Homo sapiens: one gene and its partner. The protein of the gene in region 1 purifies or fractionates together with the protein of each later gene. This does not show direct contact. Each region holds a gene or a part of one and is shown on either strand. Other genes may lie near its edges.

Evidence for each region. The genes of interacting proteins can lie anywhere in the genome.
Region 2: the proteins of CPT1A (region 1) and EMC2 fractionate together in Homo sapiens (co-fractionation; one large-scale study listed by BioGRID). This does not show direct contact.

The regions. Positions count from the first base shown.
Region 1 is NC_000011.10:68,768,835-68,772,491, forward strand, and holds part of CPT1A (carnitine O-palmitoyltransferase 1, liver isoform), read right to left. Parts: intron 1-3,657. UniProt on the Homo sapiens protein: Catalyzes the transfer of the acyl group of long-chain fatty acid-CoA conjugates onto carnitine, an essential step for the mitochondrial uptake of long-chain fatty acids and their subsequent beta-oxidation in the mitochondrion.
Region 2 is NC_000008.11:108,471,050-108,474,706, forward strand, and holds part of EMC2 (ER membrane protein complex subunit 2), read left to right. Parts: exon of another isoform or gene 1-114; intron 115-3,657. UniProt on the Homo sapiens protein: Part of the endoplasmic reticulum membrane protein complex (EMC) that enables the energy-independent insertion into endoplasmic reticulum membranes of newly synthesized membrane proteins.

The DNA of each region.
Region 1 (3,657 bases):
TGCTCCCAGTCCTGCCATGGGGCCCCTAAATTTATTAAAACTATTCCCAGCTGCTCTATGAACATCCCTGCCTCAGTCCACCCTCACCAACATGAAAAAAAGCCTTTACCAACCCCGTAGGCAAAAATCTAGTCTTGTTTAAGTTGTACTTGTTAGATTCTTGGTAAGATTAAGCTTATTACCTACACTCATTGACCGTATTTTTCCTCTCTTGTGAACCACAGTTTCTGGTCTGACTCCTTATTTCTCTTGGATTATTTTTTTCCAAAGGCAACCACTTAGCCAGATTTCCCAGCTCCATTTACTCACCAGCTCCCCGTCCCCTACTGATGTCAAATGCTCCCTCCATTACACGTTATTTCCCAGGCCTGCTTTTGTACGAGGACTGCAGCATTTTATTTTTATTAAAAACAATTTTTTTAAAGATAGGGTCTCACTGTCATCCAGGCTGTAGTGCAGTGGCACGATCACGGCTCACTGCAGCCTCCACCTCCGGGGCTCAAGTGATCCTCCCACCTTAGCCTCCGGAGTACCTTGGACTACAGGCATGCGCCACCATGCTGGGCTAATTTTTTTTTTTTTTTTTTTGTATTTTTTGTACAGATAGAGTCTCCCCATATTGCCCAGTCTGGTCTCAAACTCCTGGACTCAAGTGATCCACCTGCCTCAGCCACCCAAAGTGCTAGGATTATAGGACTGAGACCACTTTAATCACAACAGTCTTCTAACTCCTACACTTTAAGTTTTAGGATTTGAAAAAGTACATGTCCACCTCCCCGTGTCCTGCCTCCGCCTGATTGCTTTTCTTTTCAAAAATGTTACAGGTGACTCTCAAATGTTAGCCTTTTCAAGCCTCAAGATCAACTGGGCAAGCTCCTCTCCTGAAGCCCCTGCCTGACCTCTCACTGTGTTCATATTAAATGTGTGAACTAAGCCAGGCATGGTGGCTCAGGCTTGTAATCCCAGCACTTTGGGAGGCTGAGGCAGGCGGATCACTTGAGGTCAGGAGCTCGAGACCAGCCTGGCCAACGTGGTGAAACTCCGTCTCTACTAAAGATACAAAAATTAGCCAGGTGTGGTGGCAGGCACCTGTAGTTTCAGCTACTCGAGGGGCTGAGGCAGGAGAATCACTTGAACCTGGGAGCCGAGTGAGCAGCCGAGGCTGCAGTGAGCCGAGATCGTGCCACTGCACTCCAGCCTGGGCAACAGAGTAAGGCTCCGTCTCAAAAAAAAAAAAACAGTGTGAACTGGGAACATCCCTTCCTCTATGGTTCTGAAGTTTTTTTTCATCCAAAATCATGGCTTTTTCTCCCTCTCCCTGGGGAGGAGTTGGGGGGCGAGTGCTCCTCGGCCTTCTTCCCAGAGTCCAGTCTGCTTTATACACGTATGCCTGGAAGGTGGGGCCCCAGATTCTCGTTTCTATTACATTCTCTTATTATATTTCCCACTTGGCCATCATCCTTGTGCAAGAAAGCTGGTGGTCTTTGTGCAACTCTGCGCTGGGCCGGCTCACTGGGTGTGCCTCTTAATCGTCAAAGCCTTTCTGCTGTTCCATCTCCTGAACAGACATAAATGTTCTTCCTGCCCAATTACCCTGTCATCTGCTAGAGGCATCCTCATCTTTCTTGTTTTAAGGGGACTGCCTCCCACACTTTTACTTTGAAGCAGTAGCTAGCTATTAATACACGATGCCACTTATCCTGTTAAGGAAAGAGCCCTATTACTAAGCCCCTTGACCAAGAGCTCTTATCAGGAATGGATGTTAAACGTGAAACGTCTTCTTAGGATCTGTGAAACTCACTATCTAGGCTCTTCTCTGACCCAACAGTATGGTTTAGTGTATGACTGGATTTACTGACACAAAACCAGCCTCTCACCGCTGGTGTACGCCACTGTGGGTGACTATTCTTTTCCTACAGTGCTGGATTCTAGTTGCTAAGATTTTATGGAGGGTCTCTGCACTTCCATTCATGCGGGAAGCTGGTCTGTGCTTCCTTTTTCTGCGTTTAGCTGCAGCACAGTGATGAGAGCCACAGGTTCTCGAACAAGCCTGCCTGCTTCCGATCTCAGTCCTGCTGCGTACGAGCTGGAGCCCTCAGGCAAGATGCTTCACCTCCGAGTGTGGAGGGCAGAGATGAAGAGATGCCTTCCTCGGGGCCGTCCTGAAGTTTCGCTCGCTCCTGCCAAGTACATGGCACAGTGGCTGGTGCCCCTTGCAGCTCATTCCCACACCTGGGCCACGTGGGTTCTGGGGAGCAGATGGGGTGGCTTCCTTTGTGGAGTCTCTGAGCTGCAAGCTCTTTGGAGTCACAAGGGTGGCTCCCTGACAACCTCTCACTTTGGTCCCTGGACCAGAGGCCTTTTCAGGTTTTCTACCTTGAGTCAACGTCACCAATTTGTACTGCTTGCAGAATAGTCATTTCAGCATGTTTCAAAATGTACTAAACTGGAGCGTGGCATTTCCTTACTAAACTCCTAAGTCCTGCGCTTACTTGCAGGGAATTCTTTTAAAAAAGAAAAAAATTTAAAAAGATAAAATAACATCCTTTCTGTAGGTAAGGTATCAACTGCTTGCATGCCCTCATACTGCACGTTTACGGGCAAAATCTGCTCATCAATTCTCAAAATCCAGCTCACTGATTCTGAGATGCGATGCCTCTATTCCATGTCACCTTTTAATCACATGATCTTTAGTCAATGATCTGTCACAGACAGGAGCTTGTCACTGTGCTCCTGGTACTCTGCCCAGCTGCTTCTGGTTTACGCATAGTGAGCATGTTACTTGGGAAAGCAAGGCTTCATAACTGTGACAGTCTTTACAGACTGTATTAGCATGCATTTTAAATACGATTTTGGCCCATTCATTCCAGTTCATCTGATATTAACACTGCCTCTTACTTCTCTGTAACTGTTTTCTTAACTTTAGGTGGAGAGAGCATAGACTCTGGAGCCGCTGGCCCGCTTTATCCCTGCCTAGTGCCACCCTGGCAAGCACCTGGCCTCTCTGCACCTGTTTCCTCACCTGTAAAATGGGAAAACAAGATTTTCTGAGGCATAATGGGGACTTGTAAATTTTTAAAAATGGGATAACAAGAGTGCCTCCCAGGTGCAGAGACAGTGAAGCATGAGGTACATGATGCACCAAGCAAAATTCAACAATGGCACAATCGTTACCAAGGTTGGGGGGGCAGTGCCACACGCTGCATATGTGTACAGCACTCAAGTTTTAATACAAGGCTGGGCACGGTGGCTCACGCCTATAATCCCAGCACTTTGGGAGGCCAAGGCGGGTGGATCACCTGAAGCCAGGAGCTCGAGACCAGCCTGCTCAACATGGTGAAACCCCATCTCTACTAAAAATACAAAAAATTAGCTGGGCATGGGGGCGCACACCTGTAATCCCAGCTACTCGGGAGGCTGAGGCAGGAGAACTGCTTGAACCCGGGAGGTGGAGGTTGCAGTGAGCCGAGATCATGCCATTACACTCCAGCCTGGGTAACAAGAGTGAGATTCTGTCTCAAAAAAAAAGTTGGGAATATCTCAAGCCAATGCCACGATGACTTGTGCTGCCCCCAGAAACCAAGGGCCCCCTGTCTGGGATGGAATGCTCCCTCCAATGGACAAGAAGACCCATTTATGTCCCTGCTAGGGGTGCAG
Region 2 (3,657 bases), on another chromosome or scaffold:
GCTGTAATTTAATGAATGTATACTATATTCTAGGAACTGTTTTTCAAGTTCTCTGCTATACTCTGAAACAGATATTCTGGTTTTGATTAGGAAATTATTTCCTGAATCACATTCAGTATAGATGATATGCTTGTATGTACACATATGTAAACATACTCATGATTTCTTACACATGTGAAACAGTATATAATACTTATATTTAAATACATGAAATTGAATTTTTAGAGTATAGTAAAAATAATTAGCATTAATTTTATTTTGTTTCTAAAACAGGTGACAGTCATTTAACATTTTTTGTACTTTCTAAAGATTTTCTGACTAAAAGCATTTTAAAACATTTCAAATCAACAAGGAAATTTTTTTTTTCAAGTTAAAGGAATACCTAATGCAGAAAATTTGAGAAACACAGTAAAGCATAAAGACCAAGACAAAAATTACATGTAATTCCAGCATCCTAAGTTAACTATAGTTTGTTTGGTTTTTGTCCTTCCTTATCTTTTAAAATAAAAGCCCAAAATAAAATTATCTTCCGTAGTTTATACTTTCCCTTAGTTATATTTTGTTCAAAAATTTCTTGTCACTGTAACAATCTACAGTGTGTTTTGAATGGCTTTATATTATTTCATCTTACTAATTTACCCTAGTATTTTTAACGAGTTTCCTAGGGAGATATAAAGGTTGTTTTATATTTTTATATATAATGCTGTAGTGATCATTTTTATTTTGTTTCCTTGGGTTAAATTCTTTGAAGTAAAATTGCTTGATTAAATAAGATGTACATTTTCTGTGGTTTTGATAAATAGTTCCTGATTGTTCCCTAGAATGGTAACATCAATTTACTTGCACACCAGCATTTACTAGAGTCCCTCTTTAACAACACTGGATACTATGATTCTTTTTTAATCTTTACAAGTTTGATAGGTGAAATTGGTTCTACCTTTTTAGTTCATTTTTACGAGCTCTTTTTATAAAGGAGAGCAACCATTTGTCAAAAGTATATCCTTGTTATATGCTTTTTAAATACTGACTTCTTAAAATTATAGAAACTTTACATTTTTAGAAAATCAGATTCATCAATTTTTAACATTATCATGTCTGCTGTCCTTTAATAGCTTAAAAATATATCACCTTTTCCCCCTACTTCATTTGCAATTTTATTTTTTTGCATGTATTTCTAATATTTATTTCATCATCAAATTTAGGTTATACCTTATTTTTAACCTACCATTAAATTTACTTATTTTTTTCACCATGTGGTACCACCTTCAGTTTTGCTTTGTTTGGAATCTAAAGAGTTTATTGAAACAGAGGTGAATGTACACTTAAGAGAAATGAACTGAGAAATCTCAAAAAATGAAGATTTACAAAGATGTAGGAGCACCTAAAAATATTTTTTTAGAGAAAATGATAATTATGGTCAGCCTACCCTTTTATCTAGTATCACAAAACTCTTTTTGGTCTTAAAGCTAGTTAGTTACAAAATGACCATTTTTTTTTTCTAATTGAACACTTAGAAGGAATATTTATGTTTAGGTGACTGGAAATGCATATCTACAGGTTTTTTTGAAACTGTGAAAATTACAATCAGTTCACTTGATTCATTTGACATGTTTGAGCAAGTCATTATAGGAGGCAGGAATTTTTTGATGGAATGTTAAATTATCGTAGGATATCAGTTTTAGCACCAGTCTTGGGGACACAGTGGCAAAAACGTAGCAGTTTCGAAAATGTCAGATATATTTAACATTCGATATTCCTTTCTGCATATGAACAGTTGTAAGCTTTTTTAAGTATAATAGGTCGCAGGCAGCTTTGGTAGCCTATATCTAGAACTATTTTTTTTCTTTAAGAGACAGAGTCTACAACATTTCCCAGGCTAGACTTGAGCTCCTGGGCTAAAGTACTCTTCCCACCTCAGCCTTTTGTGTAGCTGGCACTACAGGTGTGTCACTGTGCCCAGCTCTGGAATTTTTAAACTCCAAATAAATATCTATAGTATAATTTTCATATAGCCCTATTTAATGTTTCTATAGAGAGAAAAAGGGATATAGAATTGTGCCATGTAACCTTTTTATATTTTTAAGTTACTTTTATAAGTTTGTTTCTGATTTATAGTTTGTTTTTAGTTATTCCAGGGATATATGTTACATCCATTGACCATATTGAGACACTTGTTCTAAAGTTTTAAAACTACAGTTAATTTTTTTGTGTCAGCACTACCAATATGTATTATAGGTTAAGTATCCATAACCTGAAAATCTGAAATCCACAATACTCCAAAATCTGAAACTTTGAGTGCCAACATGATGCTCAAAGGAAATGCTCATTGGAGCATTTTGGATTTGGGATTTTTGCGTTAGGGATGTTCAACCAGTAAGAATGCAGATATTTTAAAATCTGAAAACTTCTGAAATCTGAAACATTTCTGGTCCCAAGCATTTTGGTTAAGGGATACCCAACCTTTGTAAGCAAAAATACATTCACATTATGAAAGACAAATTTTTTTACTTCATTTGTTATTGAAACTAGATACTATACAGCAAGGAACAGTTAGTATTATACATTAATTATGATTGTGATTATAGTTCCTTTTCATAAGTCCAGCCTTTTAAAATTCCATATCAACGGAATTACCACAATTCTTTAAGGAAAAATTGTGATGTTGGTAAAGTAACACACAGTACCAAATACTGTAACCTTTAGTTATATATACTTTTGTAAGGAAGAGAAGAAAACTTTATTTAGTTCTAGTACTGACTCTAATATTGTAATAACAATTGTTATTCTGTTTTAAGTAGATTCAAATTATTTTTACTTCTCTATTCTTAGTCTTGTTGAGTCACTGTGTGTAATGAATTAACTTCTCTATGCACCTAGAATAGTACTGGCTATGTATTATCCCTGACAAGACTGAGGAAATAGTCACTTTCTGCGTGGCCTAACAATGGCCTAGAAAAGCTGGACTAGACCATCTGTTGAGCTCCTTCTAGCTCTAATTTTATTTAATTCTATATTTTATCCACAAAATTAGTTTGATACTGTACTTTATAAAATTGGGGGAAGGAGTCCTTTTCTCATATGTGATGCTAATTGATTTTTGAGAAAATATCTTGGTATTCATTTTACCCTAAGAGCTGCTACTACCTGCCCATTTTATCTTGCTTTATGCACCAGTGTCACAGTTGTGCTCAACCCATTTAAATGTCTAAGAACTTTTATTCTTAGTCTCAATATGAATTTTTGGCATCATACTATTAATAATTAAAGGAACACATTTAGAAGAGAACTGTCTTTTGATAAAGTGTTTAAGGTAGAGACAAATTTTCCCTTTTCTTTTCGAGTGATAAATATATATTAGGTAGGTAGTCATAACACATTTGTTTTAGACATTTATTCAATCATTTGTTCAGTCTTATTAAATACCTATCATGTGTCAAGAACCAATGCTAGGTTTTGAATTTAAAAATGGAAAGGGCTAAATAGCTGCATGATCTTGGATGAGAGTACACACACACACACACACACACATACATATATATATGTGGTCCTTCATAAATCTAAAATGCTGTAATTATTAGGTAATCTGCAGGGTGTATTTTTTTTCCTCAGTCCCTTTGGGTGTGACTGCTGTACACATTTTCATGTTACCATTGACAT